Homo sapiens: one gene and its partners. The protein of the gene in region 2 purifies or fractionates together with the protein of the main gene of each other region. This does not show direct contact. Each region holds a gene or a part of one and is shown on either strand. Other genes may lie near its edges.

Region 1 (3,500 bases), on a different chromosome or scaffold from region 2:
AAGTAATGGAAAACTAAAATTACTACAAAAAACTACAGAATAAACATTTTATAGAGAAATATTCAGGCTTTGATCTGTTAATACATATCACTTCCTTCCCTAAGCCTGAGTTTTAAGAAGGTATTAACCTAATTCACCCTGATGTGAACTGGTAAATCTCACTGTCAACTGTTTTAGCAGCAGGATGGAAGGAGCTGTGCTGCTGAGGACAGGAACTGGGAGCCTTTGACTACCAGAAGTGAATAAGTGACATATTCAAGTTTAAGGGAAATTTTTAAATAGAATAAATGACATTCAAGTTTAAGGGAAATTTTTAAATAGAATACTTTTTTACTTATATGGTAATGTAATCCCAGCATTTTGGGAGGCCGAGGCCGGCAGATCACCTGAGGTCAGGAGTTTGAAACCAGCCTGGCCAACATGCTGAAACCCCGTCTCTACTAAAAATACAAAACTTAGCCAGGTATGGTGGCGGGCGCCTGTAGTCCCAGATACTCAGGAGGCTGAGGCAGGAGAATTGCTTGAACCTGGGAGGCGGAGGTTGCAGTGAGCCGAGATCACACCACTGCACTGCAGCCTGAGCAACAAGAGCAAGACTCCATCTCAAAAGAAAAAAAAAAGCAGGAAAAACCTAAAAAGTAGAAAGAAGGGATGAGGGCAAGCCCTACAAAAAGACCACTGTAATCATTTCCTTATTCTTCCTATTCATTGGAGAAAGGAGGGTGGCTAAATATTTTAATCTTAATTGCTTAACAGTGTGTACAGTTGAACCATATTGGTCTTTTTCTATCTTAGGTATATTCTTTCTTGATAATCAATACTTTAAGAAGTACAGAAAGAAACTATCTCAAATTATACTACTTGCATTTCTGTTTTTTTAATTTCTATTTTAAGACTTTCATTGTGAATTTTGAAAGTATATAAAACATGCTTTTTCTATTTTAGAAAGTTTCTGTATCAACTTACAGATATCAGGATCTTTGCTTTTCTTTGTTTTATTACTAAGAGTTATTTCAAATCTATTGATGTCAGGAGGAAGATCACTAAAGGAGCAAGGAGAAAAAGAATTAACAAAATGTTTTGGCATCAAACTACCTTATTTCTTTAGTTCTAGTATCAAATAAACCCCCTATTTCTGCTTTAAAAAAAAAAACAGTGTGCTAGACCTAAAACCAGATTCACAACATATTTTATTATTTGGTATACAGAAGACACGCAGATTACACACTTTTCCTACCATCTTTAACCTCCTAAACTAATAATTCATTCAAATAAGTACTGGAAACCCTAGTAAATGTTTTGTATTTGTGGGTTAGTAAATGTTTTTTGACTTGCTAATTCATGTTAATAACTAAGTGGAAAAACCAAGGGCATAGCACTTCACAAATAAAGGTGAACAAACAACAGAAAAAAAAAAAAAAAATATATATATATATATATGCTATTAGAACACCTGGATATGGTACCTTGTTCTGATGGTTTAGATACAGAGACCAAAAAAACAGAAAGAAATGCAATATGGTAAAAGAAAATGATTAATGTAATGATAAAATAAGACTTACTCAAAGACAAACTCTTCTGACCATACTGGGTTTTGCCCTTCCCTTGCATGAGTTTTTGCTACTTGGACACTATTCAGGTAGATGTTACAATATGGATTAGTAAAATGTTTTACTGGGAGTTTATGGGCTTCTTCAATATGTAAAACAAGGCTGCTGACCTAAAAAAAAAAAAATATATATATATATATTACCCCAGATTTCTAGAATTGCACTACATTTCAAAAGCAATTACTCTAAGATACAAAGCCAAAAATAATGACTTATTTTCCCCTTTTTTTTCAGAAAATGTGAGCTTTGGTTATATATTTGTATATGACATACTTAAAACATTCAGACATTTAAAATAATTCTTCCCACCTAAAAGATAAAAACAATGCAATTTTATTTTACAAGTTATTTCTCCCAGTATATTCCTGGAGAAATAATGAAATACACCTTTTCTACCATAAAACAATGATAAAGAGAAAATGAAGTTAAGAAGAAAATTCTTTATTAATATAAGTAAACAACTGTCACTACTCAAATTAAAATCCCGTATGTTATATAATACTTATCTGGAAGATTCTATTTCTATAAAAGAGTTCCACAGCTAAAAATTTTTAAAACACTGACTTTACCTTCTTATTTTACAGGAAAGGATACAAACCTAAAGAAACTAAGTTATTTGTTAGTTTGGATGCCAAAACTTAGACCATCCACCTTCTAGTATCAGGTTCTCTTTCTCTCTTGCCATATACTACTTGTGTGGCCTTGCACAAATCCGTCCCTCTAAGCCTCATCTTTCTAATATGTAAGTATAAAGTCTACACTACAGGTTGTAATAAGTATTACAAACTAGTTATCCCTCAGTATCTGTGGGGGACTGATTCCAAGACCCTCCACCTCTCTGTCCTGGCAGCTAACGAAGCCCAAGATGCTCAAGTCCCGTATAGAAAATGACATAGTATCTGCATAAAATCTATGCATGCCCCCCTGTATGCCGTAAATCATCTCTAGATTACTTGTAATACCTAATACAATGTGAATGCTATGTACATAGTTGTTATACTGTATCTTTTTATTGTATTTTTTCGACCCATGGTTGGTAGAGTCCACTGATGCAGAACCCATGAATAGAAAGGGCTGACAGTATATGTAAATCACTAAATCACACTGCCCACTGATACATAAAAAGTGCTTGAGAGATGTTAGCTATGATTATATTAAACCTGCAAATGTCATTTTAATGGCTCAAGTTTCACACAAAATACAACTTGCTCTTATTAGCAAAAATCCAATCTGATTTTTGATAGCTTACAAAATGTTACAATGTTATGAAGACATGGCGATTGTGTGTATACTTAAATTTCCCTGGGGAAGAGCCAGACTTTGGGTTACAGGGACTATTTAGTCACCTAAATATCAACCATTATCCACTCCCAGTAGAACAGTATGTTAATCACTCAGCTTATCAGATATTCGCACAAAGAGAACAGGAGACACTTTGGTTAGTAAATAAATATTGTACTAAACTTTCTTTAAACCTTGAGAATGTCAAAATTTGCCTAACTTCTTCCAATTATACAGGGATTACTAAAAAGAAAAAAGCCAAGAAATGGAGGTTATAAAGTTACCCTTGTAAAGGCAAAAAAAAGAGAAAGCCTAGCTTAACTCTCCACAAATCTCAAAGTATAGGGCATGTTACAGTTTCAAATAAGATTAAATATTTCCTAAGAGTTAAGCAGTAGGTTTTAAAAGCTGTTCTTCAAAATGAAAATCCCAAAAAAGTTTATTGGGATTAGTGCTATAAATCTGATGATCTTTTCAATGTTCTACTTTTTTGAAAGAGGCCAAAATAAGTTTTTGAAGGAAAATTAAGTGCCCAACAGAACCGTTTCTGCTGTGTTGGTTTAGTGTTGTTATTTAAAGTGGAAGAATAATCTTTCTTATGTTTTTAAC
Region 2 (3,500 bases):
GGATCTTCCATTGGATTGGCAAGGGCTGGTGTTCCCGTGGCTCCCCTGGGTCTTGGGCTCTGCCTGCCTCAGTCTCTGGCAGATGCTTCAAGAAGGAGCCACACTGGAGGTTGTTGCAGAGGAAGTTCTCCAGGTCCTGGGTCTTGTCCTGGGCCTCATAGCTGATGGTACCCCCCAGGCTGCCGCTGTAGAACTCCACCACGCCGGCACAGTGCTGGCCGCCAGACTGTGCCACCAGCTGCAGCCTGGGAGGAGCTAGGAGAGGAGAGAGCAGGAGGGGGAGCCACCCTGAGCGCCGAGGGCTTCCTGGGCACTCCTTGCTGTTTGGCCCCAACTTGTGGACAACTACTGACTAACGCTTAGCCTTGGGAGGTGATGGGGTCCCAAATATTGCGTAGAACACACCAATACTAAACATTTCCACCTTTGTCAGAAATTCCAATGTAACTGGGCATCCTGGGTTTTTATTTGCTAGCTCTGACTCCCTGTGGGGGGTTCAGAATCCTCTTACCTGTGGGCTCTGGAGTTGTGGTGGGCGGGGGCCTTGTCGTTGGAGGTGTTGTCTTCTGGGGTTCTGCAATGAGACACTCTGGTGAGGGAGGAATGGGTGGTGTGGGGAGGGCCGGGGGCAGCCAGCAGCCTTGAGAGGACCAGGAGCTCCTGGCATGAGTGCCGCTTGGCACACCAGGTCCACTTGACCCACACGTTGTCTCTAAGCCTCCTGCGAGGCGGGAAGTACCACCCCACTTCACAGATGGGAGAATGGAGGTTCAGAGGCGACGATGAAGTCAGTGATTGGCAGAACTAGGTCCTCCATTGCCATCCTACAGATGGGTGCTGGCCCCTTCCAGTCCCCCTCCTGGGTATGTGTCTTGGGGAGTGGTTATAAACTGGGGTCCCCCCACCCCTTCCACCAGCCTGCTCAGACCCTAGATCACAGGCCTCGGGCAGTCTCCTCGGGGCTGGCGCCCAGGCCCAGGGTGCCCGTGTGGCTGGCTAGTTACCCACCTAAGCAGGTCAGGCCCAGAGAGTGACACATGTCATTTCTGCTGTGGCTGCAGTTGGAGAAGGAGCCCAGTTGTCCGTAGCAGATGATTGAGCTCTGAGGTGTGTAGGTGACAAGGAAGGGGCCAAGGCTTAAGGGCACCCCACAGTTCAGCCGCTGGCAGACTTTTGACGCTTGACTGGGGTCCTCCCACTGCTTGGAGCTCCGGCCCCAGCTCTGGCTGCAAACCATGTGCCATCCGTCCTTGAGGTAGACCTCCAGCTGGCCCTGGCACTTCGAGTTGGAACGGGTGAGCCTTGCCTGGAAATCTGGGGGTCAGAAAGGTGTGGTGGGGGTCAGGCTGGGAGGGGTTCCCCACTGGCACCCCTCACTGCCCTCTCCCTAGGACGCCCAGTTGAGCTCCCTCCTGCCCCGTGGGCTGCCTGCCTTGCCCCTTGTGAGCTTCGTCCCTTCTGGGGCACTGCAGGGGCTTCCCAGAGGACCCTGACCCAGGCAGCCCCGAAGCTAGACCCAGGAGGGTGGGGCTCCAGATTTCAGAGTCAGAAGGGAGCTCAGATAAATGGGCAAGGTGTTCTCGGCACCCACTGTCCAGCAGGATGGCCCCTGTCCTGGAAATTCTGTCTCAAGGGGTCTGAGATTGGGGCTGGTGTCTGCTTTTTAAGAGATCTTTAAAAATTAATTTTAGGCCAGGTGTGGTGGCTCATGCCTGTAATCCCAGCACTTTGGGAAGCTGAGGCGGGCAGATCACCTGAGGTCAGGAGTTTGAGACCAGCCTGGCCAACATGGTGAAACCCCATCTCTACTAAAAAAAGAAAAAATACCAAAAATTAGCTGGGTGTGGTGGCAGGCGCCTGTAATCCTAGCTACTCGGGAGGCTGAGGCAGGAGAATTGCTTGAACCCGGGAGGCAGAGGTTGCAGTGAGCCAAGATCGCGCCACTGCACTCCAGCCTGGGTAACAGATCAAGATTCCATCTCAAAAAAAAAAAATTTTATTGAGGTAATTTTACATACAGTGAAATGCACTCATTTTAAGGATACTGTTCGATGGAATTTGACAAATGTATACATGCATGTAACCACCACCATAATCTAGATATGGAACATTTCCATCATCTAGAAAGTTCCCTAAGGCCCCTTTATAGTTAATTTCCCTGAATCTAGCCTCAGGCAAACACTGATCTGCTTTTTGTCACAAAAGATGAGTTTTGCCTGTGCTACAATGTCATAGACATGGACTCATACAGCATGGATTTTATTTTGTTTGATTTGGCTTTTTTCGCTTAGCATGTATTTGAGATTTAGCTATGTCACTGGACGCATAAGTAGTTCATTCCTTTTTATTGCCGAATGATAGTTCACTACACGGACATGCCAATTTGTTTTCCATTCACCATTTGATTTGTTTCCGGGTTTTGCCTACTATGAATAAGGCTGCTGTGAACATTCACATACAGGTCTTTGTGTGGGCGTTTCCATTTCTCTTGGGTAAATACCTAGGAATGGAATTGCTGGGTCATGGGTAGACATGTGTCTTGTGTGATTTTATCAAACTCCATGAGGGGAAAAATATATGTGTGTGTGTGGTGTGTGTGTCTGTGTGGTGTAGTGTGTGTGGTGTGTGTGATGTGTGTGTGGTGGTGTGTGTGTTGTGTGTGTTGTATGTGTGTGTGGTGTGTGTAGTGTGCAGGTGGTGTGTGTGTGTGGTGGTGCGTGGTGTGTGTGGTGTGTGTGTGGTGTATGTGGTGTGTGTGTGGTGTGTATAGTGTGCATGTGGTGTGTGTGGTGTGTATGTGGTGTGTGTAGTGTGTGTGTGTGGTGTGTGTGGTGTGTGTGGGGTGTGTGTGGTGTGTGTGGTGTGTGTGTGGTATGTGTGTGGTGTGTGGTGTGTAGTGTGCATGTGGTGTGTGTGGTGTGTGTGTGGTGTGTGTGGTGTGTGTGTGTGGTGTGGGGTGTGTGTGTGGTGGTGTGTGTGTGTGGTGTGGTGGTGTGTGTGGGGTGTGTATGTGGTGTGCGGTGTGTGTGTGGTGTTTGTGGTGGTGTGTGTGTGTGGTGTGGTTGTGTGTATGTGTGGTGTGTGTGTGGGGTCTGTGTGGGGTGTGTGTGTGTGTATTTGCATAAAGAGCTCCTTGAAGAATATGCAAGAAACAAATAAACGTAGTCATTACCTGGGGTGTTGGGGTCGACGTCGGGGGCGACTGGGATAGACGGGAATAGAGATGGAAGTGAGACTCTTCACTACAGATCTTTTTATATTTTTTTAAATTTTTGAGCTGGATGAATGTGTCACTGATTCAAGAAATTTTTAGAAATGTGAAAGGCTCTCCCAGGTGATTCTGAGGGGGAGGTTTTCCCTGGTCGGGAACCACGGGTCAGGCTACCCTTTTCTTCCGACGAGGACACTCTGGGGCCAAAGCTCAGGGCCAGGGCTCGCCAAGGGCACTTGGCTGGTTAGAGGGAGAACGAGCGCGTCTCAACACCTAACATTGGTGGGGT
Region 3 (3,500 bases), on a different chromosome or scaffold from region 2:
AAGCTTGCCTGAGATCACAAAACTGATGAGAGTGGGATGCAAACCTAAAGCAGACCCCCGCTTCTCACCAAATATTTGGTCTTCAGTCCATCCATCCAAACAATGGGAGGGAAAGAGAAACTGAAGTCTGGAGGTGGGAGCATGGGATCCCACCAGTGTCCTGATACCCAGAGGACAGAGAGGTTGGGGGAGCCAGAAGCTCTGAGCCTTGGAGCAGTACTCACCCTGTGAAATATTAACCTAGGAGCTGGGGGGAAAACCCAAACAAATGCCCTATTTACAGAGGCTAGACGCTTTCCAGGAGGCAGCAGATCAAGGGCCAGAGACTGGGGGTGTGAGGGGAGTCACAGCAAGTGTGGGGATCTCCAGGTGGTCGGGAAACAGGTGAAAACCAGACGCCACCTGGCTCTGAAAAGTCTGCAGAGATTAAATCTATGAGTTGGGTTATGTCAGAAAGATGCAGACACACAATAATTGGGGAGTGTGCCTCACAGCTAGGTGGCTGCTCATGATGCTGGAGACAGAGAGGCCTTGAGGAGGCTGCATTCGGCTAGTAATCAGACTGGTTGGGTTCTATTCTTGTAACCAAATGTATTAATGATCCTACCCATACTGAATACCAAGTATATACCAAGAATTCTGGCTGGGCGTGGAGGCTCACGCCTCTAATCCCAGCACTTTGGGAGGCCAAGGCGGGCGGATCACGAGGTGAAGAGATTGAGACCATCCTGGCCAACATGGTGAAACCCTGTCTCTACTAAAAATACAAAAATTAGCAGGGCGTGGTGGCGGGCGCCTATAGTCCCAGCTACTCAGGAGGCTGAGACAGGAGAATTGCTTGAACCCGGGAGGTGGAGGTTCCAGTGAGCCAAGATTGCACCACTGTACTCCAGCCTGGCAACAGAGCAAGATTCCATCTCAAAAAAAAAAAAAAAAAAAGAACTCTGTTAAGTATTTTATATGTGTTAATTAATTGAATTCTCTCAACACCCAACAAGGCAGGAGTTACCATCTACAACTTACAGAAAAGGCAGCTGGAAGGAAGGGGCTATGGCTATGCAATTTGCCAGAGACTATGGATCTGAACAGACAGATATGTACACAGGTAGTTCATTAGTTCAAGACGCAGTGTGTCAGGCTGGGCACAGTGGCCTACGCCTGTAATCCCAGCACTTTGGGAGGCCAAGGCAGGTGGATCACCTGAGGTCAGGAGTTCGAGCCCAGCCTGGCCAACATGGTGAAACTCCATCTCTATTAAAAATACAAAAATTAGCCAGGCATGGTGGCGGATGCCTGTAATCCCAGCTACTTAGGAGGCTGAAGCAGGAGAATCGCTTGAACCTAGGAGGCAGAGGTTGCAGTGAGCCGAGATTGCACCACTGCACTCCTGCCTGGGTGACAGAGCAAGATTCCGTCTCAAAAAAAAAAAAAAAAAAAAAAAGACCCAGTGTGTCCAGCTTTCCAAGCAGTTCGCATCAAAGTCACAGATAACTTATTTATTTATTTATTTATTTTTCTTTCTTTTTTTTTTTGAGATGGAATTTTGCTCTTGTTGCCCAAGCTGGAGTGCAATGGCACAATCTCGGCTCACTGCAGCCTCTGCCTCCTGGGTTCAGGCAATTCTCCTGCCTCAGCCAACCAAGTAGCTGGGATTACAGGTGCCCGCCACCATGCCAGGCTAATTTTTGTATTTTTAGTAGAGACAGGGTTTTGCCATGTTGGCCAGGCTGGTCTCGAACTCCTGACCTCAGGTGATCCACCTGCCTCGGCCTCCCAAAGTGCTGGGATTACAGGTGTGAGCCACTGCGGTCGGCCTATTTATTTATTTTTCTTTTAAGAGACAGGGTCTCACTCTGTCACCCAGGCTGGAGTGCAGTGGTACGATCTCAGCTCGCTGCAACCTCCACCTCTCACGTTCAAGCAATCTCCCACCTCAGCCTCTGGAGTAGCTGTGACTACAGACGTATACCAACAGACCTGGCTAATTTTTTTATTTTTTGTAGCGATGAGGGCTCACCATGTTGCCCAGGCTTGTCTCAAACTCCTGGGCTCAAGCAATACGCCCACCTCAGCCTCCCAAAGTGCTGGATTACAGGTGTGAGCCACCGCACCCAGCTGCCACAGATAACATTTTATCAATATGATAATACATTATCATTTTGTTTCCCAGATAAGGAAACAATGGTTGAAAGATGAGCAATGAGTTGTTCCTCCGGTAAGTGTGTGACCCTAAAGTTCGAGCCCCTTGCCATTATGCTATGGGGAGGGACCATTTCTCCAACCTCAGCTTTCCCTTCTGTTCCACGAGCCTCCGCCGCTTCCTTACAACTCAGGCACTGAGCTCACATGATCCAGTACTGCTGGTAACCACTCCGTGGCATGTCATTTTTTGGCCACAGCATTGAAAGCTTCCTGAGGGCAGGGACCCTATGTGATTTCTGGGGTCTCCATTACAGAGTATGTGAGTGGCTCAATGCCAGTGACAGGGCCTCGGCTCCACAAGATCCCCAGCCAATGTTTTCCAGCCTCAATATTTATCAAGGTCCTTACCTGTCAGCATGTTGCGAGTGGCACACGCTGTGTTGCGCGTGTTGTGAACAGGGTTGCTGAGGAGATGCCATGAAAGGATGGCAGGAAGGTGGTAACCAATAATTATGAAGAGTGATGTTCCTGAGAATAATGCTTCAAGAGACCCTTCTGCATCTCTGAAGCTGGAAAATCAGTTTCAGCGATTGCGCCAGATATAAGACAGTGGTCCACAAATAGATAACCAGACAGGGGTCTCTGCACTCACCTCTCAGGACTCCAGAACAGATGAGGTACTGAAGCCAAGCAAAAAAACCAGAGTGCCAAGAGCAGTCTTCCAGCTAGTGGGCCCCCAAAACGTGTCTGCATAATCCTAGTGGTACTAATGATAATACCTTTGTAGAGAGCTTCAGAACACACCTAATTCTTTCACAAGCTGTGTCTCATTTCATCCTCCCAACAGCCTTTAGAGTTAGTCGGAGGCAAGGGAAGGCCATTATTCTTAATCTACAAATAGGAAAACTGAGGCCCAGAGAGGAGATGGAACCTGCCTAACTCACACAGCAAGCCAACAGCAGAGCCGGGATTTGAACCAGGTCCGCAGGTCACCAGCCTGGGGTTCTACCCACAACAGCCTACCCCAACATGCTGGCTCTCAGCTCCTAAGTGCTCTGACCTTTCATTTTCAAATTCTCTGGCCCAGTTGCCCTGCTCAGCCTGTGTCCCAGGCCTGAGGATATAGTCCGGGCTTGGGGTATAAGGAGGGAGATCAACTGTGGTTCTGCTTCCTATAAAGCAGGCTGGAAAGTCTCAGCCTCTGCCGGGCACTTCCGGATCACCAGCCTCTACCCGTAGATCAGCCACGCACACTCCAACCACATATCTAGGCCCAGCATACACTGCCCCTCCCCACCTGTCTCCAAGTCACATTCATTTCAACACCCTCATTTTGCCTATTTTACGTGGTAGAATGG

What was found.
Region 1: the proteins of CD5 (region 2) and RASA1 purify together in Homo sapiens (affinity purification with western blotting; one study listed by BioGRID and IntAct). This does not show direct contact.
Region 3: the proteins of CD5 (region 2) and ZER1 purify together in Homo sapiens (affinity purification with mass spectrometry; one large-scale study listed by BioGRID and IntAct). This does not show direct contact.

Annotation. Positions count from the first base shown.
Region 1 is NC_000005.10:87,372,383-87,375,882, reverse strand, and holds part of RASA1 (ras GTPase-activating protein 1), read right to left. Parts: intron 1,721-3,500; coding exon 1,563-1,720; intron 1,044-1,562; coding exon 967-1,043; intron 1-966. UniProt on the Homo sapiens protein: Inhibitory regulator of the Ras-cyclic AMP pathway. Stimulates the GTPase of normal but not oncogenic Ras p21; this stimulation may be further increased in the presence of NCK1.
Region 2 is NC_000011.10:61,115,989-61,119,488, reverse strand, and holds part of CD5 (T-cell surface glycoprotein CD5 isoform 1 precursor), read right to left. Parts: intron 1,315-3,500; coding exon 1,009-1,314; intron 575-1,008; coding exon 512-574; intron 256-511; coding exon 1-255. UniProt on the Homo sapiens protein: Lymphoid-specific receptor expressed by all T-cells and in a subset of B-cells known as B1a cells. Plays a role in the regulation of TCR and BCR signaling, thymocyte selection, T-cell effector differentiation and immune tolerance.
Region 3 is NC_000009.12:128,765,428-128,768,927, forward strand, and holds part of ZER1 (protein zer-1 homolog), read right to left. Parts: intron 1-3,500. UniProt on the Homo sapiens protein: Serves as substrate adapter subunit in the E3 ubiquitin ligase complex ZYG11B-CUL2-Elongin BC. Acts to target substrates bearing N-terminal degrons for proteasomal degradation with the first four residues of substrates being the key recognition elements.